Linked DNA regions of Homo sapiens. The protein of the gene in region 3 purifies or fractionates together with the protein of the main gene of each other region. This does not show direct contact. Each region holds a gene or a part of one and is shown on either strand. Other genes may lie near its edges.

Evidence for each region.
Region 1: the proteins of GLB1 (region 3) and TRAPPC6B purify together in Homo sapiens (affinity purification with mass spectrometry; 2 studies listed by BioGRID and IntAct, with this or other methods). This does not show direct contact.
Region 2: the proteins of GLB1 (region 3) and TRAPPC10 purify together in Homo sapiens (affinity purification with mass spectrometry; 2 studies listed by BioGRID and IntAct, with this or other methods). This does not show direct contact.
Region 4: the proteins of GLB1 (region 3) and TRAPPC9 purify together in Homo sapiens (co-immunoprecipitation; 3 studies listed by BioGRID and IntAct, with this or other methods). This does not show direct contact.

Annotation. Positions count from the first base shown.
Region 1 is NC_000014.9:39,160,317-39,167,342, reverse strand, and holds part of TRAPPC6B (trafficking protein particle complex subunit 6B), read left to right. Parts: intron 1-7,026. UniProt on the Homo sapiens protein: Component of a transport protein particle (TRAPP) complex that may function in specific stages of inter-organelle traffic.
Region 2 is NC_000021.9:44,078,309-44,085,334, reverse strand, and holds part of TRAPPC10 (trafficking protein particle complex subunit 10), read right to left. Parts: intron 5,772-7,026; coding exon 5,631-5,771; intron 5,321-5,630; coding exon 5,208-5,320; intron 2,548-5,207; coding exon 2,033-2,547; intron 1,214-2,032; coding exon 1,072-1,213; intron 748-1,071; coding exon of another isoform or gene 637-747; intron 1-636. UniProt on the Homo sapiens protein: Specific subunit of the TRAPP (transport protein particle) II complex, a highly conserved vesicle tethering complex that functions in late Golgi trafficking as a membrane tether.
Region 3 is NC_000003.12:33,010,139-33,017,164, reverse strand, and holds part of GLB1 (beta-galactosidase isoform a preproprotein), read left to right. Parts: intron 1-324; coding exon 325-456; intron 457-2,854; coding exon 2,855-3,109; intron 3,110-7,026.
Region 4 is NC_000008.11:140,447,722-140,454,747, forward strand, and holds part of TRAPPC9 (trafficking protein particle complex subunit 9), read right to left. Parts: intron 3,663-7,026; coding exon of another isoform or gene 3,653-3,662; coding exon 3,069-3,652; intron 1-3,068. UniProt on the Homo sapiens protein: Functions as an activator of NF-kappa-B through increased phosphorylation of the IKK complex. May function in neuronal cells differentiation. May play a role in vesicular transport from endoplasmic reticulum to Golgi.

The DNA.
Region 1 (7,026 bases), on a different chromosome or scaffold from region 3:
CCATAAGACTTGAGGTGAGATAAAAGAAAGAAACAGTGTTCTAACCCTCCAAATCAAGGTTTTTCAAACTATGCTTAAAGAGGAATTCTCTTAAAATGGACTAATTGGGCATTTCTCAATTTATGGTGAATGGATTTTGAAAGGCTAATGGATAAAATGTTCTCAAGTTGAATTTTTCTTAAAAATTTGGTGCCTACTCAAAAGTGCATGAACAAGTAGCAAAATTAAGTAGTAGGGCTTAATTCAAAAGCTCATGTGATCATAGGATTTGAAAGTGTCTGCATATAAGCATATTGTAACTGCCCAGTGGGTTCTTCTTCCCCACTGCCCAGGTAGAGCTGATCTATCAAGACAGGAGAATTGCAATAAGGAGTTTATGTAGAGCTGCTAAATGGGAGAGCAGAGTTTTATTATTGCTCAAATCAGCCTCCCCAAACATGCAGAGTCTAGGGTTTATCAAGGATAGTTTGGTAGGCTGGGGGCTGGGGAATGGGTGCTCCTGGTTGGTTGGGGATGCAGTTACAGAGGTGGGGGCCAGAGGACCAGTTGGAGTCATCCGAAATGCAAAAGTCTGAAAAGACATCTCAAAAGGCCTTTTTTAGGTTCTACAATAGTGATATTATTTACAGGAGTAATTGGGGAAGTTACAAATCTGTGACTTCCAGAATAATGTCTGATTATCATTTAACTACCTACATTTTAGCAGAATTCAGACCCCTCTCATAAGCCTAACCTTATAGTCTTTCATTAGTTTTGCAAAGGTGATTTAGTTTCGGGAAGGGCTATTATCATTCTTGCTTTAAGCTTACACTATAAACTAAATTTCTCCCAAAGTTAGCTTGGGCTGCATCCAGAAATGACCAAGGGCAGCTTGGAGGTTAAAGGCAAGATGGAGTTGATTAGGTGAGATCTCTTTTACAGTCATGATTTTCTTACTGTTACAATCTTTGCAAAGGTGGTTTCAATAGTTCCTGCTAATAAATATGTTCCTAGGTGATTCTACAGAGAGCAGATTATTCCAAAAAGAGCATCATGATTTACAGACACTTATTCTAGCTGAACTTGTTTTTTTGTTTTTTTTTTTTTTAAGAGACAAGTCTCTGGGTTAGTGTGGTGGCTCACACCTGTAAATCCCAGCACTTTGGAAGGCTGAGGTGGGAGAATTACTTGAGCCCAGGAGTTGGAGACCAACCTGGGCAACATAGTGAAACAGTGTCTCTATTTAAATAAAAAAAAAAAGAGGCTGGACACGGTGGCTCAGGCCTGTAATCCTAGCACTTTGGGAGGCCAAGGCAGGCAGGTCACAAGGACAGGAGTTCCAGGCCAGCCTGGCCAACATGGTGAAACTCCGTCTCTACTAAAAATACAAAAAATAGCTGGGTGTGGTGGTGCACGCATGTAGTCCCAGCTACTCGGGAGGCTGAGGCAGAAGAATCACTTGAACCCAGGAGGCGGAGGTTGCATTGAGCCGAGATTGTGTCACTGCACTCCAACCTGGGTGACAGAGCAAGACTCAGTCTCAAAAAAAAACAGAGAGAGAGAGAGAGAGACAATGTCTTGCTCTGTCATGCAGGCTGAAATGCAGTGTTGGGACTTTGGCTCACTGCAGCCTTGACCTCCTGGGCTTAAGTGATCCTCCCACATCAGCCTCTCGAATAGCTAGGGCTATGGGCATGCTACCATGTCCAGCTAATTAAAAAAATTTTTTTTTGTAGAAACAGAGTCTTGCTATGTTGCTCAGGCTGGTCTCAGACTCCTAGTCTCAAGTGACCCTCCTGCCTCAGCCTCCTACGGTGCTGGGATTATAGGCATGAGCACTGCGCCTGGCCTCATCCTAAGCATGTTTGAGAAGTGTGGAGAATAGCAGAAAAACTGAAGATAGTGATACGTACAGTAATAGATGTATGTACAGAATTTTACGACAGCATAGGGCCTAAGGAAGTTTCAGGGAAGCCATCTGGGAGAATGTAATACTTGAGCAGAATTTAAAGAATGTGAATGCCAGGCGCGGTGGCTCACGCTTGTAACCCAGCACTTTGGGAGGCCGAGGCGGGCGGATCACAAGGTCAGGAGATCGAGACCGTCCTGGCTAACATGGTGAAACCCCATCTCTACTAAAAATACAAAAAATTAGCCGGGCGTGGTGGCGGTCGCCTGTAGTCCCAGCTACTCAGGAGGCTGAGGCAGGAGAATGGCGTGAACCTGGGAGGCAGAGCTTGCAGTGAGCCGAGATCACGCCACTACACTCCAGCCTGGGCAACTGAGCGAGACTCCGTCTCAAAAAAAAAAAAAAAAGAATGTGAAGTCTAGGGAATAGCACATAAAAAGGCAGGGAGACAGAAGAGAACATGGCACTCTGGAGTTGCTGCAGAAATTTCAGAGTGGTAAAAGGGAAGGATGTTTGTGAATTTGGTTAACTAGCCAGGAGTCTTTAAGGAAAGGACATACCATGATGCCATGCTAAGGAGTTTGGACTTTATTTTTTGTTTGTTTGTTGGTTTGTTTTGAGACAGGATCTCACTCTGTTGCCCGGTCTAGAGTGCAGTGGCTAGATATTGGCTCACTGAAACCTCTGCCTCCTGCACTCAAGCCATCCTCCTACCTCAGCCTCCCAAGTAGCTGGGACTATAGGTGCATGCCACCATGTTCACCTAATTTTTGTAATTTTTTTAAAGATGAGGTTTCACTATGTTGCCCAGGCTGCCCTCGAACTCCTAAGCTCAAGCAATCCTTGGCCTCCCAATGTACTGGGATTTACAGGCATGAGTCACTACATCAGGCCTGGACTTTATTTTGAAGAAAGGGGAGCAGGTGCTGAAATTCCAGTAGAGAATAACATGATTTTTTTTTTAGACAGAGTTTCACTGTTATTGCCCAGGCTGGAATGCAATGGGGTGACCTTGGCTCACTGCAACCTCCGCCTCCTGGGTTCAAGCAATTCTCCTGCCTCAGCCTCCCGAGTAGCTGGGATTACAGGCATGCGCCACCATGCCCAGCTAATGTTTTATGTTTTTAGTAGAGATGGGGTTTTTCCGTGTCGGTAAAGCTGGTCTCGAACTCCTGACCTCAGGTAATCCGCCTGCCTCGGCCTCCCAAAATGCTAGGAGGCGTGAGCCATCATGCCCGGCCGAGAATAACATGATTTTTTTTAGAAATTTACTTTAGTAGAAGTTACACTACCAGAAATATAGAAGATGACACAAAGTAGGAAAAAATGAGACAAGACCAGTTGGAAAGCTATAGCTAAAAACCAGGAGAGAAATGATAAGGCTTTACTTAAGAAGTAAGGGTAGAGAGAGACGATGAATTTTGAAAAGCTTGTAAAAGATAGGCTCCACCGGACTACAGTGTATGGGGGGTTGGGAGCACAGGGGTGAAGAAAATGGAAGTTTTCTGGTTGGAGTAACTAGGTGAATGGTGGTGCCATTAATGAAGTTAGGAAATTTTGGAGGCAGAGCAGGCTGAAGACATTAATAAAATGAATATCATTTGAATATGCATACTTCGAAGGTCCTGTGGGACCACTAGATGTCTATGCCCAATAAAGTCTGTACTAGAAACGCAGATTTAATAGTCACAGCACCATAAGCAGAGTGCATGGTTCCTTAGAAGAAAGTTTAGCAAATAATAAGCCCTATGGTTTCCTTAGTGGGAGACAAACAGCCTTCAGAATATACAAAAATCCCTGCCTTTTTGGAGCTTTATTTTAGCAGAGAGGGGAACAAGGGGCACATGGGCAATATAAAATAGTAAAATGTATGGTATATTAAATGGTGAAAGAAGTTCTGTGGAGACAGATTAAGCAAGGAAGTGGGACTGAGTATCAAAATCAATTTTTAGAAGGTTTGTTAAAGCTGATTAGCGGCCCCATACCCAGAGTTTCTGATTAAGTAAATTGGGAGTGGGACTAGAGAATTTGCAAGTTCCCATGTGATGCTGATGTTGCTGGTCTTTTTTTTTTTTTTTTTTCTGGTGATGAAGTCTCGCCCTGTCACCCAGACTGGAGTGCAGTGGCATGATCTCGGCTCGCTGCAATCTCTGCCTCCTGGGTTCAAGCGTTTCTCCTGCCTCAGCCTCTTGAGTAGCTGGGACTACAGGTATGTGCCACCATGCCCGGCTAATTTTTTGTATTTTTAGTAGAGATGAGGTTTCACTGTGTTAGCCAGGATGATCTCGATCTCCTGACTTCGTGATCCGCCCACCTCAGCCTTCCAAATGCTGGGATTACAGATGTGAGCCACCACACCCAGCCAACACATTTTTAAAATCACTAGGATAGAGAGTTGCCAAAGGGGTATGATGTTGCACTTTTAAAGAAGATGGTTAAAATGGGCCTAAGATGGTGACATGAGAGTAGACTCAAAGGAAGTGAGGGAGTTGGTTGTGTGACTATCTGGAGGAAGAGTTGATGCAAAAGCCCCTGGAATGTGCCTGGCATGTTTAAGGGACGGGGCAGAGTGCATCTGCAGAAGGTTGAAGCCAGAGAGGTATGGGGTCTGGATTGTAGAGGACAGTCCATCAGTCATCCATAGGATTTGGATGTGTTCAGCATAGAGGTACTATTTCAAGCCTTAAGATTGAATGAGATTGTCAAAGAAAGAGCAAAGCAATCTCATGATTTAAGGCAAAGTGTGATAATCAGCTAAGACACTGAGAACTGGGAAGCCTGGATGATTCTGAGACATTTTGAAGCAAGGAACAATAGAACTTAGAGCAGAAAGCAAATGACTCAGGGAAAAACATCAAAGGTGATACCAGGTTTTATAACCTAGGAGAGAAGAATGATTGAAATTGGGATAAAAGGGAGACGAGGAGTAATTAGGAAGAGGATTTGATTTCTGAAAATCAATTATAAGCAGTAGTTCCCTGTTTATCCTGTTGCCTTGTGCCAGGTGCAGTGGCTCACACCTGTAGTCCCACAGCTTTGGGAGGCCAAGCCAGGAGGATATCTTGAGGTCAGGACTTTGAGACCAGCCTGGGTAACAGAGTGAGATCCCATCTCTTAAAAAAAAAAAAAATAGCCAGGCATGGTGATGTGCCTGTAGTCCTAGCTACTTGGGAGACTGAGGTGGGAGGATTGCTTGAACCCAGGAATTTAAAGCTTCAATGAACCATGATCTCGCCAGTGCACTGCAGCCTGGGCGACAGAGCAAGACTTGTCAAATAAATAAGTAAATAGCAGTTTGGTCTTTTGTTGGAGGAACGTCTATTCTTAGCTTGGACACTGCGGTTTTTCCTTGGGCAGCAGAAGCAATGTGGCGATTGAAGAAGTGACCTAAAACTTTGATGTTAGGTAGAAGCAGATGGCCCAAGCCAAGACAAGTGCTTGTAAATCCACTGGTGGGAGCCCCTCCTCCTAACAGCAGGTTATTAACGCTGCCAGAAAAAAAGTGTCCCCTCTACCGGTCTGGTGAAGAAACCTCATCGCTACGGGCCTGGGACTGTGGCACTTCTAGAGATTCTCGTTACCAGAAATTGACCTAGCTTCTCATCTGGAAGCTGCCTTTCTAGAGGTTGGTGAGAGAGATCACCCAGGATTTCAAAACCAACTTTAGGTTTCAGAGCACAGTCATTGGGGTGCTGCAGGAGGCTAGTGAAGTGTACCTGGAGGCTAGTGAAGTGTACCTGGTGGGTTGGTTTGAAGATGCTAATTTGTGTGCCATCTACGGTAAGAGAGTTGGCTCTCATGCCCAAAGACATCCAGTTGGCTCGCCAGACACGGAGTGAGCGAGCTTAAGTGAAGGCAGATTTTAAGGCATTTTATATGAATTCTGTAAAATACTTTGGTTTAATTTGTGACTTTTTGGGGAGAAATTATTTATAATATGTTGCATTTGTGCTTAAGTCATTCCGTCTTTTGGGATGAATGTGAAAAGTGACTGTTCATAGACCTCAGTGACGTAAGCACTGTTGCTCAGGAGTGACAAGTTGCTAATACGCAGAAGGGATGGGTGACATTTTTTCATTCTCATGACGCATGTTTCTGTAAGTTAATGACTTGTTAGGTAGCTATTAAGGAACTAGAGTTGATAAATAAATGTGTATAGGTTCCTTTTGCAATATAACTGGTTATTACTTGATCCAAGTGTTTAACATTTGGAGCTAAGTCTGACCATACATTACTGTGATAGAATGTGGGCCTTTTCAAGGGTGAAGATACAAGCCTTAACCACAGTATAACTTGCAGTTTCCTTAAACAAACAAAGAAATAAAAACCTAGCATGGAGTACATTATGTGCATTTATAATAGCTATTTTAAATATTGTAGTGTCAACATTCAAAAATTAATTCTTTTACATTCGCAAATGGTGGGGAGTCTTGTCATTAAGGTGTGTATAACTTAGAATCCACTTGGTTTTCTCCTAACTGGACTGCATTTGTTTTCATAGTAGTAAAATGTTATGTGTATTACACCTTGCATAAGTCCTCATTCTACTACGTGTTAACTAACCCTCTAGATGATAATGCAGATGCTAACTGTGGGATTTTATTTATAAGAACTCTAGAATAAATACCAGTTATTCCTACCAACATCGGCTGTTACTAATATTCTGAAGTAGTTAGTGCAACTTTTCATTGTGTTGTGGTTGGTCTCCTAAGTAGGTTGGATTTTTCTCCTCTTCTAAGAGAAAACAATAGTGAAATTATTTTCTTTCTCTTTTCTCTCTGTTTCTGTCTCTTTCTCTCTCTCTTTCTCCCTTCCCTTCCCTTCCCTCCCCTCCCCTCCCCTCTTCTTTTCTTTTCTTTCTCTTCTCTTCTCTTTTCTTTCTTTCATGGGGTCCCTTGCTCAACCTGTTGCCCAGGCTGGAGTGCAATGACATGATCATGGCTCAGTGCAGCCTCAACTTCCTGGACTCAAGCAATCCACCTGCATCAGCCTCCAAAATGGCACATGCTACCATGCCCAGCTATTTTATTTTTACTTTTAGTACAGATGTGGTCTTGCTATGTTGCCCAGGCTGGTCTTGAGCCATTGAGCTCAAGTGATCCTCCTGCTTTGGCCTCCTAAAGTGCTGGGATTACAGG
Region 2 (7,026 bases), on a different chromosome or scaffold from region 3:
TCTTGGCCTAATGTGACACTGTAAAATACACATGTAGTTTTCAACCCCATTTCCAGGCATACTAGCTCCCAAATTCCTTAGAATCTCCAAAGTGATGTCTTTTTGTAGGCTAATGAGTTGATTGGAGGCTGGCAGCTCCAAGGTAGCTTCAAGATGAGGACTGGTCACCAGAATGACCAGGGCAGGATTAGAGGGTCGGGCCTTTCAGCAGTGGCACCCAACCTCCAGGGAGGAAAGAGGGGCTGAAGGTCGAGTTGCTCATCAGTGGCCAGTGGTGTAATCGATCATGCCTGTGTAATGTCACTTCCATAAAAACCAAAGGACAGGGTCTGGAGAGCTTTCAGGCAGCTGAACACATGGAGGTTCCTGGAGGGTGGCGCCCAGGGAGGGCGTGGAAGCTCTGCACCCCTTTCCCCATACCTCACCCTCCACACTTCTTCATCTATATCCCTTATAATAATCCAGTCAACCTGTTTCCCTGAGTTCTGTGAGCTGTTCTAACAAATTCATCAAACCCAGAAAGGGGGTTGTGAGAGCCCTGATTTCTAGCTAGTTGGTCAGGAGCACAAGCAAAAGAACCCTGGGCTGGTGGCTGGCATGGGAAGGGGGGGACTGTCTTGGGGACTGAGCCCTCACCCTGTGGTGTCTGACGCCAGCTCCAGTAGACAGGGTCAGAACTGAATTGCAGGACCGACTGCTTGCTTGCTGGCAGGGGGAAATCCCTGCACATTTGGGCCCAGAAGTCCTCTGCATTGACCATTAGGTTGAGTGAGCCAATAGAAAAAAATACCTTGAGTTTCTTTTTTCCACTCTCAGAGCTAATTCTTCTGTGTTTCTTATTTTCAGATACACCATGTTTATTAAACATGAAAAAGCAATTACAGGAAAGCAAACATTCAGATAAACAAAAGAGGCAGTCAGCTAGTTCCCAGGCAAAATTTCCATTATGTTACCCAAAATATCTCTTAAAGGCAGACACAGCTAAAACTTATGAGAAGCCTGGCATCTCAGCAGGTCTCCTCAGAACTGCCCCAGCAGCACGCCTCCTCAAAGGCTGGGGACCCCACTCACCAGCCAGCGGCTCCACGTGCAGCTGGGGCTCCTGTGAGTACACGTCGTACTGCACAATGGGGTAGATGTGAGGGAGGACGAACCACACGGAGCCCACCGAGGCGCACAGCTGCCTGAGTGTATACGTTCCAGGTTCCTTGGCCTAGAGTCAAAGAATCAGGCATTTGAAACCACGTCACCCAGTTTTGCAGTTAGCTTCCTGCGGTAGCGCGGTGCAGCGGTCTCTCTGAACTCCAGAAAGGCCTGTACTTCTTTCCCTCTTGTACCCCCTGCTCTTGTGCCTAAACCTCTAAGCTTGGGCTCTTCACAAGGCCCTCAGAATCTCTCAATTCGTGATTTTCTGAGTAACTGATGCTTAAATTTAACTTTAATAAGGTATTTTCAACTTATCTAAACTGTATTTGTGGCATTGTAGAGACATTCAGCACGAGATTTAAGCCCTGCCCTAGACTAAAAAATGTGACAAATAGCTGTACTTTCCACAGGCCAAATCCTGTTGAGTTAGTGGAACTTACAGGATATCCTGTGTCAGAGAAAACTTTATGTTAGAGTGGGTGAGAAACACCAGTTTTGACACCCAGCCAGCCACAAAAGGAAAATAAGTTTGAGTGGGAAAGTGTACCACCTTCTTTGAAAGCTCATTTTAACAAATGAGGGTGTGTATTTTCATATGCAGGGGGGAAAGCTAACTGAATCCAATAATCCAATGAGTTAAAAAGCTAACTTAATCTAAGAACAAATATCTACGTTAAGAACTTCACTCAGAATTTATCAAATGTCAGAAAATTGTATAAAACACGAAAGAAAACATCAGTGTATTTTTGTATAAGGACAGAGACAAAAACAGGGTTAGGAGAACAAAGGACTCTACTCAATTCACAGCACACTCCAGACAGTTCTTGTAAGCTCCACGGCCCTGCTTTACAAACTTGAAAGTCAAGTTCCCACCCTGAACGCATACCTGAGTCCTGAATGTTATCTGGTTGGCCCCTGGTTCCAGGGTCACGTGGCTGCACCTCAGCACGTGGGCACCCTCCTCCAGAGCCACCCCTGAGGGCATCTCTAGAGAGGAGCTGCTCTCCTGCCTTCTCAGGAGCATGTGGACGTTTCTGCAGATAATCCCAGTCGTGTTCAAGGAGTTATCAGATGGGCTTCTCTCAAACATTTCATACAACTCCAGCGCGGGCAAACTGTTTTGGGATACAGGGAAAGGTGCGGTCTCGGGTGGAAAGTTAATGATCCCATTGGACGTCTTGTGCTTGGTAAGCCACTCCGCAGTCTTCCGGTAGCTGTTTTTCTCAATGCTGAAGTGGACATTGACCACAATCTGCTCCACGTGAACAGGCACAGGCATCTGGCTGTACATGGTTATCTCAACGCACAAAACGCCGCCCACGTGGACCACGGCATTGGAGGGATCAAAATGGAGATCTCGCAGTTGTGCAAAGGAATGCATGGGTAGCACTATCTTATGACCTGTAAATAGACATTATCGTAAGTGACTCCCCAAGTCACACTTCCTGACAGTAAGCAGCAGCAGGCCGCGGACACAGTAAGATCACCGAGAGCAGACTGAAGCAAGCAGCAGTGATGGGCACAGCAGCTGAGCCCAGCCTCCTGCCATCTTCACACCCCCCAAAGGCTATTGTATCAAAAGCAGAATATTAGCAAATACCTACGTAATGCCTAGAAATCATAAAATGTACAGAAATTAACCTTCTCAAGTCTGCTTTGACAAACCTAAGAGAAATACAGGTCAACTACCTCTCAATTTCAAACGACAATTTGTAAATAGTCCAATTTCTACAGCTATTTCCAAGGGATTCCAATATTTTCTCACCTACTTAAAAACATGCTCAGTGAAGATGCCCAAGTGCCCTGCTGTGATGTGGAAACAAACCCCAGGTGTCTGCCAGTCTACAAAGTCAGCCGATTAAGCAGGACCCCTCTGTGCCCCCAGGCCCAGGATGGCAGCAACCAGCCAGGTCTACAGTTGCTGCTGGAATGAGAGCCTAATGCTCTCTCTGGGCCCTTCTCTCTCTGACCGAACTGTAAGTACCTTGGTTTTGTCTAGAAAATACACAAGGCTGCAGAAGTGACCAGTTAAGTATTTATTAAATATTCATCAACGAAAGGACTTGCCAAGACTGATGCCATAGATCATGAGAAACAGTAAACGATTGTGGAATATTTTATTCGTATAGAGATACCAAGGAACGTTGGCAGGAACATCACAACTCAAATAGTCTCAAATACAAAGCAGCAGCAGATGTGGTCACGGCTCTACCAACAGTCAGCTTGGGCGCGTTAAAGACTCCACAGACTAACGTCATGATGCTCCCGAGAAACCCACCCACATGGATCTTTTGTTGTCCCCCTTTCTTTGAGACAGGGTCTCGCTCTGTCGCCCAGGCTATAGTATAGTGGCACCATCTTGGCTCACTACAGCCCAGTTCTCCTGGGCTCAAGCGATCCTCCTACCTCAGCCTCCTGGGTAGCTGGGACTACAGGTGCCCGCCACCACACCTGGCTAATTTTTTGTAGAGACAGGGTTTCGCCATGTTGCCCAGGCTGGTCTCAAACTCCTGACCTCAAGTGATCTGCCTGCCCCGGCCTCCCAGGGCAGGCAGAAGTTCCTAGAAGTTTCAGGGTCAGGTTGATGTGGTTATTGACTGCTGGGGTGTATTCACTTACAAGCATCTGGGGCCCAGCGTGGTGGCTCACGCCTGTAATCCCAGCACTTTGGGGATTACAGTATGGGGTTTCTTTTTAGGGTGATAAATATGTTTTAAAATTGACTGTGGTGGCCAGGCATGGTGGCTCACATCTGTAATTCCAGCACTTTGGGAGACCGAGGTGTGTAGATTCCTTGAGCTCAGGAGTTAAAGACCAGCCTGGGCAATATGGCAAAACCATCTCTACTAAAAATACAAAAATTAGCCAGGCATGGTGGTATGCTCCTGTAGTCCAAGCTACACAGGAGGTGGAGGTGGGAGGAGCAATTGAGCCCAAAAAGCAGAGGTTGCAGTGGGCTACAATCATGCCACTGCACTCCAACCTGGGAGACAGAGAAGAAAAAAAATAGCTGGGTGTGGTGGCCCACACCTGTGGTCCCTGCCACTCAGGAAGCCAAAGTAAGAGGATCTCTTGACTCCAGAAGGTTGAGGCTACAGTGAGCTGGGATCGTGCCACTGCACTCCAGCCCAGGCAAGAGAGCAAGATAGTCAAAAAAAAAAAAAAAAAAAAGAAAAAAAAAAAGAACAATAATATTGACTGTGGTAATGGTTGCACATATTCCTGAAACAGACTAAAAGCCATTGAATTATAAACTTCAAATGAGTGAATTACATGGTTTGTGAATATCACAATAATGCTGTTACATTTTAAAAAAAAAAAAAAGCACCATCTTAAAAAATGAAGAAAAAGACTGGGTGCGGTGGCTCACATCTGTAATCCCAGCCCTTTGGGAGGCTGAGGTGGGTGGATCACCTGAGGTCAGGAGTCTGAGACCAGCCTGGCCAACAGAGCAAAACACTGTCTCTACTAAAAATACAAAAAATTAGCAGGGCATGGTGGCGGGCGCACGTAACCCCAGCTACTTGGGAGGCTGAGGCAGGAGAATTGCTTGAACCCGGGAGACGGAGGTTGTGGTGAGCTGAGATGGCACCATTGCACTACAGCCTGGACAACAGAGCGAGACTCTGTCTCAAAAAAAAAAAAGAAGAAGAAGAAAAAGAGATGGGAAGAACTTTTTTTACATTAAAAGAGAACTGAGATCTAACAACCACATGTAATATGTGATATCCTGTTGGACTCCATTAAAAATGATTTATAAAATACTTTAAGACAATTAGGGAAATATGAATATGGCCTACTTAGCAGATGATATTAGAACCTTATTAATTCTTTGGGTGTGGTTAAGAGACTGTCCTTATTTTTAGAAGATCTAATGTGGTCTAGAGTTTGACTTAAAGCAAAAATAAAAAAAAAAGTCAGGTGAAAGACATAGATACATGTCAGCTACACAGCAAAATGTTAGCAACTGTTTACTGTAAGTGGTTGGTATATCTTGTATTCTTTTTTACTTCTGTAATATTTGAAAATATTCCTAGTCAAGTTGTAAGAACTGGTCTTACCTGGGCTGTCTGACGGCTGGCTGGCAAAGTCAAGTATCTCCTGGCAGAAGTGCTTGCGCTCCTCTTCAGTGAGGTGGTGGTCACTGGCTAAGAGGCTGCTGGTCTGCAGGTAGCTGGAGCGGAGAGGTAAGGAGCGTGGAGAGGCTCATACTTAGGAGTGCGGGGGGAAGTGGATGCAAAGTCTCCTACGGCCTTCACAGAGGCTTCAAAAGCCAAAGGGCTTTTTTTTTTTAAGTTACTAGGGCTCAAAATTAGATTATAAAAAATCGACTAGACATTTCATTCATTTTCTATACAATACATATGTATAAGTTAGGACTTTTCTCTCCTTAATAATAGGTGTGAATGAAACATTGATTGTGGGCAATGTTGCCGTATAAACAGAAAATAATTTTCCTGCTTCATGAAAACATTAAAGGATACTTTTCAATTTGTCCAAGGTGCTTTTGACATTCGGCCAGCTGCTTCCTTGTGTGTGTGATGGGGAGTGCCCAGCCCTCAGCCAGGTAGTTTTTCAGTGCTCCTTGAAGATAGATTTCTGCCTTTTGTGGAGCCTTTTTCCTCCTTGCAAAGTCAACAAACAGTAGCTTTCATTACAGCTAGGGATAATCAACACACTGAAACCCCATCTCTCCCGCTTTGGCCTCCATCCTCCAGACCCCATGCCAGGACAGACTCAACATCTCTAGATAGCCCTTTTCCACCCACCCCACTCCGTGAGAAAGAGTACCTACTCAGGACGACATAATTAGACTCCCAGGCAAAGATCTGAGAAATGAGCGTGTGGTGATAAGAGCACAACACATCGTTGGTCTGGCTTTATACACATGTCGAGGAACTTTCATAGCTGAATCTCAGGATAAGAAAGTGAGCCTATCATTCATGATCTCAAGCTGACAGGCAAGAGGGCCAAGGCTAAGAGAAGGTGAAGGAAGGGCTTGTCCACAAGTACACTGCTAGTCAGCAATGAAGCCAGGAAGTCCAAGTATGGGTCTACACTACCTACTAAAGGCACAGAAACACAGAAGCAGTCTACAGGGCGCAAGCGGAAGGGAGCACAGAGCCACTTGGAAACTCAGGCAAAGAGCACTCCACAGGATCCAGCTTCCAGAGAACGCCGGAGAATTAAAATAGCCACACTTGGCCCCCAAAGCAAAGTTTAAAGCACAACTGTTTTTTTTAAAGATGGGGTCTTGCTCTGTCACTCAGGCTGGAATACAGTGGTGTGATCATAGCTCACTGCAGTCTCAAACTCCTCAGCTCAAGTGATCCTCCCGCCTCAGCCTCCTCCACTGTAGCTGGGACTACTGGTGTGTGCGGCCTTGCCTGCCTTTAAAATGCAAATTAATAAGGGCTTGTCAAAGCCTCAGGAGCAACAAGGATCCCCTCCCCTTTCCCGAGAAGCCTCTCTGCTTCCTTAAGGAGCACCTTCCTCTTCAGATACACAGCATGGAAGTTCAAGAGAGCTACATTCTAGCTGTGACTCTGCTGTTAACCAGTGGGTAATCGGCAAAGCTGCTCCAACCACATCCGGAAAACCAGAAAGTTCACTTAGCTGATCTAAGAATCCCTTTCCAGCCAATTCACATCAGTTCAAATCAATTCTCATTTCTTGCTTCACCTAATGAAATCACTTGAGTACAGATTTCAAGATCTCATTTCAATCACTTTTTTTTTTTTTTTTTTTAGAAAATGAAAACAAGCATCTTTTTCCTTATAGCTTGTATCTCCTTTGAGTACTCTGAAATGGTAACCACATGACCCACTGGGGTTTCTTCTCTTTGATAGTCTGATTTTATGAAACACACCAGAAATACGC
Region 3 (7,026 bases):
AAGCAGCTACTCTAGTAAGAATCCTCCCCTGGAATTTTCCACTAAAAGTAGTTGGCAGTAAAACATTCCAGGGCAAAGGAAACCAGCTTAGACCGTTCCATGCTCTGAGCTGTGTCTGGCAGTTTTCCTGTTTAGGAAGCAGTGATTGGGGGATCTTTCCGACCTGGCCGGTAACTTGGGCTAAGATGCTATCAAAGCATTTCTTTCCAAGTCTGGTGACACTTCAAGGCAAGAAAATGAGTGCTAAATTAACTGAGCATGCTGCCTCTCCTTGCTGACCTTCTTACCCTCAATTCAATTGTCATTTGGTCTTGAACCCCACAGATCCCCCAGGGAGTCCTTGAGCGAAACAATGTGATCACTCTGAACATAACAGGGAAAGCTGGAGCCACTCTGGACCTTCTGGTAGAGAACATGGGACGTGTGAACTATGGTGCATATATCAACGATTTTAAGGTAGGACAAACCACACTGTCAAGACTAAGGTTTAAGGGGTGACAACTTAGAAGTTGAAGCCCAGTACAGTGGCTCACACCTGTAATCTCAGCACTTTGGGAAGCCAAGGCAGGAGGATCACTTGAGGCCAGGAGTTCAAGACCAGCCTGGGTAAAATAGTGAGACCTCTACAAAGAATTAAAAACTTAGCCAGGTGTGGTGACATGCACCTGTGGTCTCAGCTACTCAGGAGGCTGAGGCAGGAGAATTGCTTGAGTCCAGAAGTTGGAGATTAAAATGACCTATGATCATGCCACTGCACTCTAGTCTGGGTGACAAAGTGAGACCTTGTCTCAAAAAAAAGAAGTAGTTGAGCTATTTTGAAGAGCTGTTTTCCTCTGTAGGTGATGAGAAAGTTGAGCTTTGCAAACAGAACCTTTCCCCTGTGTTTGAGTTTGGTCATCCTATAGAAAGAAACAGAAGGAGGAAGCCCCTCCACCATGCTTTTCCTCTGCTTTAAAAGACCACCAAGCTCACTGAAGGCACTCCTTTGCCAGTAAAGCCAGCTGAGCCTCTGTTCTGCCCTGTTTTATGGGTTTGGATGGTTAGCCTGTGGCAAACTCTTCACTTGTAGGAAGCCTCTTCCCTTGGGGCACTGGCTCTCACCTCTGTTGATTACTCCTGTGTCCAGATGTGTAGCCCAAATAAGTTTTTCTAACACATATTTTTAGAGCATTATTCAGCAAGCATTTGTTAAGCTCCCACTCCGCGAGATGCCCCACCAGGTGCTTTGGGGAATGCAAAGGTGTCAAGAGACAGGCTTCTCTCAGGGAGCTCAACCTCCGCGAGAGGAGAGAATGCCTTATCAAGGGAACAATGGCACCACCCAGGCTAGGGCAGGACAGGTGTCTGGGGCTATTTCCTGACCCTCTTGAGATCAGGCAATTACATCTTAGGGAACTTAGGGAATAGCTGTGTGCAGGCCACCTTTGCCTCCAGTATAAATGTCTCTCTCATAGTTCTTGTGCTCAGGGTGGACTTCATGGCCTCCTGCCTGGCTCTCACAGGCCACATTGACCCATGGGAGTGACTCGACTCTGTTGTGTAGTCTCTGGGTCTCCAGTACCTGTCAAAGAGCCTGACATACAGCCACCTGGTTAATATTTATCAAATTATTAAATGGGCAATCGAGACTTGGTATCTGGGATTCCACTGGGAATGGGGAAGTTCCCTACATACAAGCCAGGGAAGGGGAAGTTAGCTGAGCCTTGACAGCCCAGCCCTGGCCTGTGTGGAACAAATAGAGCAGCTTCTGAATTCAGGTCTGAGGTTTGCCATCGTCATCATTACCTTCCTATCCTCTTAAGGTATCACAGTATTCTCATGTATGTTATCTCACTTGGCCCTCATAACAGGTGAGTGACTCGGGTGTGGTCCTCCCTGTGATGATGGCTGAGGTGCTCAAGGCCAATATTTGCTCCTGGCTGCATCCGTCGTACCTGCTCCATCCGCAGTGGGATGACTATTCCTTTGTATCCCACACTCACTCATTCCTTCTGTCCCCAGATTCCATCTTGAGACAGGATCTTGCTGTCACCCAGCCTGGAGCGCAGTGGCACAATCTCGGCTTACTGCAACCTCTGTCTCCTGGGCTCAAGCAATCCTCCCTTCTCAGCCTCCCAAGTAGTTGGGACTATACGTGCATGCCCCCACACTAGGCCAATTTCTGTATGTTTTGTAGAGACTGGATCCCTTTTTGTTTTGAGATGGAGTGTCGCTCTGACACCCAGGCTGGAGTACAGTGGCGCGATCTCAGCTCACTGCAACCTCCACCTGTCAGGTTCAAGCGATTCTCATGCCTCAGCCTCCTGAGTATCTGGGATTACAGGCACCTGCCACCACACCCAGCTAACTTTTGTATTTTTAGTAAAGATGGGGTTTCATCATGTTGGCCAGGTTGGTCTTGAACTCCTAACCTCAAGTGATCTGTCTGCCTTGGCCTCTCAAAGTGCTGGGATTACAGGCATGAGCCACTGCGCCTGGCCCATCTTTCTTGGTGCCCATCTTTCTCTATTCTAGCAGTGGCTCTCAGCCAAACTCTGAAAATTTGGGAATTTGGGATCAATCACTCTAGCAACTCAATGCCCTTTCTGTAGAAGCAGAAACTCTGGGCCTTTTATAGAGACATCATGACCTGCAAAGGAGAAAGCTATAGTTTGGGGAATATATCTCTTCCCAAGGATTTGTAATTCAACCTCCAGTTAGATCTGTGTTACTTCGATGTACACATATTTCGAGGTTCATTTCCTGTTGGTGTTTTGTATCCCGGTTTGCTTTTCCCATTTCCCTGGAATGCAGAGACATGTGAAGCCTTTTTCCTTCCCTCCCCAGCTCACTGTGCTCTGTTTCTGCTTTGCAGGGTTTGGTTTCTAACCTGACTCTCAGTTCCAATATCCTCACGGACTGGACGATCTTTCCACTGGACACTGAGGATGCAGTGTGCAGCCACCTGGGGGGCTGGGGACACCGTGACAGTGGCCACCATGATGAAGCCTGGGCCCACAACTCATCCAACTACACGCTCCCGGCCTTTTATATGGGGAACTTCTCCATTCCCAGTGGGATCCCAGACTTGCCCCAGGACACCTTTATCCAGTTTCCTGGATGGACCAAGGTACGTGTCTTCATGGGAAGGGTTTGAATTCAGGCCTAAACTTTTGGTTGTTAGTGTCTGAGAAAGAATCACAAAGAGCTGTTAGTGAGATATCGTGTGATGGTTTTGAGTGTGGCGTTTCGGACATTCTTCAGGAGGCGGATTGTGGCAGATCTTCAGGGATTCAGTGGCCAGCTCGGAGGTGCTGCCATCTGCCCCCTTGTCATTGGCTTCCTGTAGTGAATGACACCATCCTGCCTCCTCCAAGAAGAATCATGACCCCTTTTGATGCTGATTATAGGGGTGCTTTCTCTTTATCTTGAGGACAATCCAGTCAAGACAAAGAGGTGGATCCCTCTGGGAGAGTCTGTCTGGTTTTCATTTATGCCAAGCCCAGTGCTCCCAGAATATCCCCACCTGCATCCAGCCCCACACCCCTGGGGCTTCTATCATAAGCTGTCTGCTTCTCCACTCTTCCTCATCCATTTTCACTTCCCAGTCACTCCGCCTTGTCGTTTGAAGACATTGGCATATCTTCCTTCACCGCCTTCTCCTCTCCCTCATGTCCTGTTTTCATCCTAGATCACCTTACCATCACTCATTCAACACACTTCTCATTCTGTGGCCACTATGTGCCCAAGGTGTGTGCCAGGCACTAAGGATACAATCATGAATAAAACCAAACATGGTCCTTTCCCTCATGGAACTTTCAGTCTAGTGAGGGAGGCAGACTCATATTAAAAAGTAAAACCATAGCTGTGATGGATGCTAAGAAGGGCTATGGGGTTGATAATAATTGGTGCATTTTGCCTTGTCAGGGAGGTCAGGGAAGCCTTCCCTAAGATAGTGATGCTTGTCAGAGATATGAAGGATGAGTAAGAATTAGCATGGCAAGAAGGGAAGAAAGCATGTTCCTGGGAGAGGTAACAGCTTGTGCAAAGGCCATGGGGTTGGAGGGGAAAATGTCAAGTGTGGAAAGTAGGTAGAGACTAGATTGGGACGGGCCTTATAGGCCACGTTAAAGTTTTGTCTTTGTGTTGAGAGCCATTGAAGCAGGAGAGTGACATGATAAGACTGTGATCTGACAAGCTCCTCTGACCCCATTGTGCAGAATGGTTTGGGTAAGGACACTTATGGATTCGAGGAAACCATCTAGGAGGCTGGACCATAGTCTCATTGAGAAACTGGGATGGTGGTATCTAAGATGGAGATGACATCAACTATTTGAGAGATGTTCAAAGTTGGATCAATAAATTGTGACAATGGATTGGACAGGAGGGTTTGGGGAGAGGGATATGTCTCGGATGACTCAGGTCTCAAGCTTGCAGCTGGGCAGAATGGTACCATTTGCTGAAAGAAGCAGCTTCAGAAGGGGACTTAGGCTTAGAAAGGGGGGTCATGAGTTTGAATTTAGACCAATTGTGTTTGAAAAGCTGCCTTAGTCTATTTGGGCTGCTATAACAAAATACCATAAGCTGGGTGGCTTATAAACAACAGGCATTTATTTCTCACAGTTCTGGAGGCTAGGAAGTCTTCAATATCAGGGCACCAGTAGATTTGCTGTCTGGTGAGAGTCTACTTCATCATAGACAGCACCCTCTATGTCCTTACATGGCTGAAGGGGCAAAGGAGCTCTCTTGGGTCTCTTTTATGAGGACACTAATTTCATTCATGAGGGCTCCACCTTCATGACCTAATCACCTCCCAGAGGGGGCCCCACCTCCTAACCCATCACATGGGGGCTAGAATTTTAACAGATGAGTTTTGGGTGGACACAAACATTCAGACCATAGCAGAGGCCTTGGAGAATGGCTGGGAAAGACAGTATTGGAGGAGGGTTGTTGGATCTATAGGCTGGGAATTCAGGGCAGGGATCTGGGCCAGGAATGTATGTAGAAGATCATTGTTGTATAGATGATTGTTGAAAACATGGGCTGGATGAGGTCTCTCAAGGAGAGAGGATGCAGAGGGAAGAAAAGAGGACGTAAGGCTGATGTTTGAGGGACAAAAACATGATGAAGACTGAAGAGGAGAGACCAAACAAGTAGGAAGAAAACCAGCATTTATGCTGCCAAGAGGACAAATAAGATAAAGACAGAAGCACTTCGGTGGTTTTAGAAGCAAGGAGGCCCTTGGGAATCAGTAAGCCTTGTTCCAGTGGAGTGAAGCATCTCCCAGCCAGATTGCATTCTATAGAGAAGACCAGGGTAAGGAATACGAACAGGAATACTTGAATATAAACGTTCTTTTTGAGAAATTTAATTCTGAAGAAGAGGAGAAAATTATGTTAATAGCTGGAGGAGGAGAAGGCAAAAGATGTACATGGTGTGTGTTTAATAAAATGCCCTTTTATTTATTTATGTGTTGCTTGTTTAAAATTTATTGAAATGTATTTTCATTATTCTGTTTGAAATATTTTCTTTTTTTTTTTTTTTTTTGAGATGGACTCTGTCACCTAGGCTGGAGTACAGTGGTGTGATCTCTGCTCACTGCAACCTCTGCCTCCCGGGCTCAAGCAATTCTCCTGCCTCAGCCTCCAGAGTAGCGGGGACTACAGGCACACACCACCACTCCTGGCTAATTTTTTTTATTATTTTTATTTTATTTTTTATTTTTTGTTTTTTTTTTATTTTTATTGGAGACGGGGTTTCATCATGTTGGCCAGGCTGATCTCGGACTCCTGACCTCAAATGAAGTCTCGAAAAGTGCTAGGATAGACATCTGAATTCATTCCAACTTATAGTTATTATAGTTATTATAATACTGCTGTAAACACTTGCATGTAAGTTTTTATGTGAACTTGGCCTCGAAAAGTGCTAGGATTACAAGTGTGAGCCACCACAGCCATCCTGTTAGAAATATTTTCTACTTTCCCATATGATTTCTTCTTTGAACCATAGATTATTAAAAAGTATGTTTTACTGGGTGTGGTGGCTCATGCCTGTAAATCCCAGCACTTTGGGAGGCCGAGACGGGTGGATCACCTGAGGCCAGGAGTTCAAGACCAGCCTGGGCAACATGGCAGAACCCCATTTCTACTAAAAATACAAAAATTAGCCAGGCGTGGTGGTGAGTAACTGTAATCTCAGCTACTTGGGAGACTGAGGTGGGAGAATCTCTCGAACCTGGAAGGCAGAGGCTGCAGTGAGCCAAGAGCATGCCACTGCACTCCAGCCTGGGTGACAAAGCAAGACTGTGTCTCAAAAACAAAACAAAAACAAACAAACAAAAAAAGTATGCTGTTTAATTTCCACATATTTTGGGTTTGTAAAAATATCTTGTAATTATTAATTTGTAACTTAATTCCTCTATAAAACTTCTAAAATTTCTCTCTAGGGAGAGAAATCTCCATGATCTTGGGTTAGGCAAAGACTTCTTAGATTTGACACCTAAGGCATTATCCTTAAAGAACAAAAATTGATAAATTGGACTTTATCAGAATTAAAAATATTTGTTCTTCAAAAAGCATTATTAGGAAAATGAGAATCCAAGCCACAAACTGGGAGAAAAATAATTTTCAAATCATATATCTAACAAAGGACTTATATCTAGAATATGTAAAGAATTCTTACAATTCAATAATAGACAAACAGCCCAGTCACAAAAGGAGCAAAGAACTTGAATAGACATTTTACCAAAGAAGGCATAAGATGGCTAAGTACATTTGCATTTGTATACCTTCTTTGGTAAAATGTCTATTATAAACTAAAATTAGTGGCTGATTAATGTTCAACATTATTAATCATTTGGGAAATGCAAGTCAAAACCAAAATGAAATACTACTTCACACTCACCAAGATGGCTAAATAGTAAGAAGGACAATAGGCAATGTTGGAAAGGACATGGGGGAAAGGGAATCTTCCCACATTGCTGGTAGAAAGATAAGAAGGTACATTTGGGAGCATAGTTTGGCAATTTCTTCAAGGGCTAAACATAGA
Region 4 (7,026 bases), on a different chromosome or scaffold from region 3:
GCCTTACATCTGGACATTTCCTGTTGAGCTACAAAATACCACCCCATTTCAGGTTGGACACTTCCTCACTCCTACCAAGAGCTGCAGGGGAGACAAGGCTTTGTTCCTGCACCAAAGCATTCCTTCAAAAATTAGAGAACCAGCCAGGCACTGTGGCTCACACCTGTAATCCCAGCACTTTGGGAGGCCGAGGCAGGTGGATCACTTGAGGTCAGGAGTTCGAGACCAGCCTGGCCAACATGGTGAAACCCTGTCTCTACTAAAAATACAAAAATTAGCTGAGTGTGGTGGCGCACGCCTGTAATCCCAGCTACTCAGGAGGCTGAGGCACAAAGAATCGCTTGAGCCCAGGAGGTGGAGGTTGCAGTGAGCCGAGACTGCACCACCACACTCCAGCCTGGGTGACAGAGCAAGACACCATCTCAAAAAAAAAAAAAAAAAAAAAATTAGAGAACCATGGAGAAACAAAAGCAACAACAGGTTACCCATTATGAGAGGAGGATGTATTTGATTTGAGTTCACTGGTGTCATTATCTCACTGAAGTTCAAATGCTAACTGATGTCTAATTGCGGCTGTCCCACTACAGTGAGCAAGCAGCTTTATGTGCCACTGTATTTTCAGTGCCTGGAGCCATGCCTGGCATATGAAGGCTCTAACAAACACTTGTCAGTCCTTATCCACTATGCGTGACGCACTGCGTCACAGCACACTCCCGCTCCTCCTGCAGAGTTGTGAGCTCAGATTTCAAAAGGCAAAAAAGACCTGGCATTTGAAGGTGGATCTGCAACCTCACAGCCAAGAAGTGGATGACTGAAAAATGTCACTGATGCCCATGTGGCAAAGGAGGAAGGCATGAGTCAAGGGGTCAGAGCAGGATTCCTGACCCATGCTGCCTGTGAGCTTCAACCCCTCACCCCTTCTCTGTAAAGCAGGGGCAGGCCACTCCCTGCCGACCTGGCAGGTGGCCGCCAAGCTGTGCACACCATACAGCAACACCTTATCAGGGATGACTCCCACAGTGCCTGCTGGCTGGACAGCAGTGTGCGCTATTCACGAGGCACAGGAGGCGCAGCAGAAGGCAACAAGGTGAGGTAGAAAGGCCCCGGGCCTCAGAGACAGACCTGGTGCTTATATCAGCTCTGCTGCTTGGTGGCTGCCCGGGTCTCTAAACCTTGCTGCCTCAGCCCCACATCAGCCAGCACAGCAACCCCGTGTAGATCACAGGGCTGCCGTGAGGATTAAACACAGAGCAGGTCTACAGCATGCCTTTTCCTTTCCTTAAGCCAAATATGCACATTTGGGTGAAGAAATGAAAATTCCTTCCTTCCAGACCCTGCAAAGCACCACAGGCAGGTGCGACTGAGGCTATTCCATGCTTCCAACTCTGAGGGCTGGATTTAAGACTACTGTGTCTCAATTCTGTGATCATCTCTCCTCATACTTACCAACAACCAGAACGACACCGTGTGACCTTAGATAAATTTCAGAAACATACTGAGCACCTACTTTGCAGCAGGCACTATGGTGGCATGCACCTTACATCACTGAATCCTCACCTGTGGCTCATCAGCCAATCCTATACAGGAGGAGGGAGAGCCCTGTCCAAGCCAGGAGGCCAGTGACTGACACAGTGACACATCACTTTCCCTGGCAAATGGGGACGCCCTCTTGGCAAACAGCTGCTGCCTAGGCTTGCATCTCATCCAGCTCTGCAGAACAGCCACCATGGCAAGACACAGCAGCAAGCAGAGAGTGGAAGGAAGTGGCAAGGAAGAGCTCATCTGCAATTTTGATTTGAAATAAAGTTTTTGACTTAATAACAGGCAAGATGGGAAGCTGACCTTTTCCTGCTCTATCCAACACTCCTTGTACACAGAGAGAACAGACATACTTTTCATTTGTATACGGTAGCTGTTTAGGAGCTCCCAGGTGGTATTTCTGGCATCCTGATATCCATGCTTGGCTGCTTTGTAAGTGAGGAATTCGACACTGTGGCCATCAGGAGGGAAAAAGTAGCCACATACGCAGGGTGCACAGCCTGGCAATCCGGAGACGTGGGCTCTACTTCTAGCTCAGCTAGGACCTAGCCCTTACCTCTCCAGATTCACCCTCTCATCTGTGAACCAAAGGGACGAGACTGAATAAAACTGTTCAAACTGTGCTCTAGCACAGTGCTGTCCAACAGAAATAAAATGCAAGCCACGTAAGTACATTTCAGTTTCTAGTTGCCACATTTTTAAAAGTAAGAATGAAACAGTTGATACTGATTTTTAAAATATAGTTTATTTAACCTAAGATATGTAAAATACTATCATTTCAACATGTAATCTGTATAAAACATATTAGCAAGAAAGTTGGCCAGGCACAGAGGCTCACACCTGTAATCCCAGCACTTTGGGAGGCCAAGGCAGGCAGATCACTCAAGGCCAGGAGTTCAAGACCAGCCTGGCCAACGTGGCAAGATCCTGTCTCTATTAAAGATACAAAACTTAGCCAGGCATGGTGGCACCTGCCTGTAGTCCCAGCTACTTGGGAGGCTGAGGCATGAGAATCACTTGAACCCGGGAGGTGCACGTTGCACTGAGCCAAGATCGCGCCACTGCACTCCAGCCTGAGAGACAGAGTAAGACTCTGTCTCAAAAAAAAATTAGCAAGAAAGTTTATTTTTTCAGAAGTAAGTCTCAAAATCTGGCGTGGGTTTTATTCACAGCCCATCTCAACTAAAACTAGCCTCGTGTCTAGTGCCCAAAAGCCACAACTGGCTGTGGCTGCTGTATGGGACAGAGCTCCAGGAGTCCCACGAGGGGAGCCCCACTAAAAAGAGGGGAGTGTACAAGACAACTCTAAAGGACTCCCCCAACCAAAGGCTGTCTCTGTCTTTAAAAGTCACTGGTTTTTGTTTGGTTGGTTTTTTTAGCAGCACTCAAACAGATTCTGACAGAAAGTCATTAGTTTTAAAAACCAATGGACAACACCTTTCTACTCCTTGCTGCAATGAAATTCTGCCCTGTGCTTTCCCTTTCTGATGCAGGGAAGCCAAGGGGCCTGGGTCTCTAGGTAAGCTTACCTGCTGTCTGTGTCCAGTCCTACAAAGTCCTTTTTCTCAAACGGGACACAGAGAAGGGGGATCTTATCCCCAGACTTGTCTGTGGCTCTGTCCAGACGCTTGGACTCCAGCACGATGAACAGTGACTCGATGAAGTCCTCGATTCTCTTCTCCACCGTCTGGCAGTCCTCGTAGTTGGGGTAGAAAGCCACGTCGGTGCGCGGCTGCTCCACGATCTCCCCCTGCAGCCCGAAGACAAAGAGCCGGGAGTCATACAGTGTGGAGCCGTAGATCTCCTTCTGCACGTGGAACTTCTCAAAGGTCTGTGGCCAGTCCTTGGCCGAGAAGCAGTCTGTGATGGTGATGAGGCCCACGACTTTGCGGTGGGTCTGGAAGTCACCCCACTCGTTGTTCTCGGGTGGGTAGTGGTGCCTGTAGCGGATGTAGAGGACTCGCTGGGAGTCCCGCACGCTGATCTGACTCACAGAGCAAATCCTCTTATAGATCCTGAAGAAGTTCTCCTCGGAGACGATGCCCACAGGCTGGACCACCACGAGCAGCGTCTGGTGGTCCTCAGCACACTGCATGTAGTCAGGGACGCTCATTTTGAAGTCCCTGTTCAGAGAGAAGAAATGAGGCTGTGAGACACAGAGTCCTGAGTGCTGAGAGCCTACCCTGGGAGGCAGTGACTGTGACCTTCACTACCCAGAGGCAGGGGAAGCCCCAAGGAAAGCCGTGGCATCAACAGGTCTTAGGGCTCTACACGTGGCTGTCGCAGCTCTGATCATAATGCTGTAACTGTTGACCTTCAGTCCCTTGGCCTCAGCATGGAGCTTCTACAGAAATGGGGCTGTTTCTTGTCTTTCTATTCTCACCACCTAACCAGGAGTAGTAAGAGTCAGTGCTCAAAAATGTCTGTTGAGTGAATGAATAAACACGTGTGTAATTGCTCCCCCATCCCCTCAACAGGATATTAAGAAAAATCCACCATGCAATCACATCTGGATTTGAATTCCGGGCTCCCTGGAACTCCTCAGCTACAAAATAGTGGTGATAATAGAACTTGTCTTGGCCGGGCATGGTGGCTCATGCCTGTAATCCTAACACTTTGGAAGGCCGAAGCTGGCGGATCACTTGAGGTCAGGAATTCGAGACCAGCCTGGCCAACATGGTGAAACCCCACCTATACTAAAAATACAAAAATTAGCCGGGTGTGGTGGCACGTGCCTGTAATCCCAGTTACCCAGGAGGCTGAGGCAGGAAAATCACTGGAACCCGGGAGGTGAAAGCTGCAGTGAGCCAAGATTGCGCCACTGCACTCCAGCCTGGGTGACAGAGTGAGACTCCGTCTCAAAAAAAAAAAAAAAAGAGGCGGGGCGCAGTGGCTCACACCTGTAATCCCAGCACTTTGGGAAGCTGAGGCAGGCAGATCACAAGGTCAGAAGATCGAGATCATCCTGGCTAACATGGTGAAACCCCATCTTTACTAAAAATACAAAAAATTAGCCCGGCGTGGTGGCAGGCACCTGTAGTCCCAGCTACTTGGGAGGCTGAGGCAGGAGAATGGCATGAACCAGGGAGGCAGAGCTTGCAGTGAGCCCAGATGGCGCCACTGCACTCCAGCCTGGGCGACAGAGCCAGACTGCATCTCAAAAAAAAAAAAAAAAAAAAAGAATTAAAAGAAAAAGAACTTGCCTTATAAAACTGTATCTAGATTGAGGAGGTTGCGAATGTAAAGGGCCTAGCATTGTGCCTAACATAAAAGGAGAGATTACACAAATATACCACCTTTCCTTTATAAATGGGAGAGTTGCCATAACCTCTCTGAGCCAATTTTGTCAGATATAAAAAGAAAACGTTATTACCTGATTCCCCAGAGCTGGGGAAAAATTAAATTAGATGACCCACGTGAAAGAATCTGGCTCATAGGAGATCCTCAATACATGTTTGTTGAAGGGATTAGTGAACAAACAAACAAATGAACAATCCAATGAATGCTGCCCCCAGCCTACAGACGGTCATGATGGAAATCCCACTGCCTGGAAGTCAGGGCCGATATTCAACTCCCAGCTCTACACGCACGATCTGGGTGACCTGGAGCAAGCCTGTGTGCTTCCCTGAACCCTAGTTTCATTGTGAATAAAAATGAGGATAGTAACACATACCTCAAGGTGTCAGCAAGTCAACATTCTGGTTGTGATAACATACTGTGGTTTTGTAACATGGCACCACGGGGGGAAACTGGGCAAAAGGTATATAGGATCCCTCAGTATTATTTCTGACAAATGCACATGGAGCTACAACTACTATAGTCTCAAATAAAAAGTCTAATTTTTTTAAAGGTTAGGGAGATTAAATGAGCTCTCTGTATCAAATAAGAAAAAGATGCCTCGATACACACCTCCACTGTCCCCATCAGTGGGCTGACACTTCCTGAGGGGATTTGGCCATGGTCCCCATGGCCAGAGGCAGCTGTACCATGAGCTAATGGGGTTCAGCTTCAGGCCCCTTCCATGGCCCTCTATCTAATTTTGCATTTTTAATTTTGTTTTCTTTTTCTTAAATAGGAAGCCCAAAACTGCATAACCTTCAGGTCACCAAAGCCTGACTGCAGAGATCGTGGCAGTAAAACCCTCCCAGGTGACACTAAGATTAAAGTGACATTGCTATAAGACCTCTGTGAAATTCTAATGGCAAGCTTCTCACCTGCACGGAGAGGAGGAGGACTGTGTGTCGGGGGCTATCCTGGACATCACAACCCCACCTCTACAGACTTCAAAAATACACATGGATAGAGAAGTATGAACAAAATTAAATTTTAAAAAAAGGAAACCCTAGCCTCCCAACATGTCTTGCTTCTGCCCAGGATCTAAACGGTTCACAAGTATATTACATGTGTGTGACTCAGCCCAAGTCCCTGACTCCAGTGCTCACGCTCTCAAGGACGACGCCCCACTCTCTCCTGCCCTTTCCCCACAACGATTCCCTAAAGAGTCTTTTCTGCACACAAAAACCACCTTCGAAAGAACCAAAATCACATCACCTTCCAACAAAGAGGCATAAAACCCCTCGGAGGACATATCAAAATACTGAGCGGGGGAGACTGGAGCGCTCATGTTTCTCAAAAGTAGGCACAGGTTTAACAGAAGCTGAGAAACACCGAAGCCTTCATTCTACAGAGGAGGAGAGCGCGGCCCACCGCAGGTAACAAAGGGCCTTATTTTAGAAGTATCATCTCGGCCAGACACGGTGGCTCACACCTGTAATCCCAACACTTTGGGAGACAGAGGCGGGAGGATCACTTGAGGTCAGCAGTTAGAGACCAGCCTGGTCAACATGACAAAACCCCATCTCTATTAAAAATACAAAAATTAGCCAGGAGTGGTAGCACACACCCGCAGTCCCAGCTACTCCAGAGGCTGAGGCAGGAGAATTGCTTGAACTCAGGAGGTGGAGGAGGCAGTGAGCCAAGATCACAACACTGCACTCCAGCCTGGGTAACAGAGCGAGACTCCATCTCAAAAAAATTAATAAATAAAAATGATTTAAAAATAAAAACTATCGTCTCATCTAAAAAGCAGCATAATCAGCCGGGTGTGGTGGCTCACACCTGTAATCCCAGCACTTTGGGAGGCGGAGGCAGGCAGATCACTTGAGGTCAGGAGTTGGAGACCAGCCTGACCAACATGGAGAAACCCGGTCTCTAATAAAAATACAAAAAATTAGCCAGGCGTGGTGGCGCATGCCTGTGATCCCAGCTACTCAGGAGGCTGAGGCAGGAGAATCGCTTGAACCCAGGAGATGGGGGTTGCAGTGAGCCGAGATCACGCCACTGCACTCCAGCCTGGGCAATAAGAGTAAGACTCCCTCTCAAAAAAAAAAAAAAAAAAAACACAACCTGACCTCACACCTGTGATCTCAACACTTTGGGAGGCCAAGTCGAGTGGATCGCCTGAGGTCAGGAGTTCGAGACCAGCCT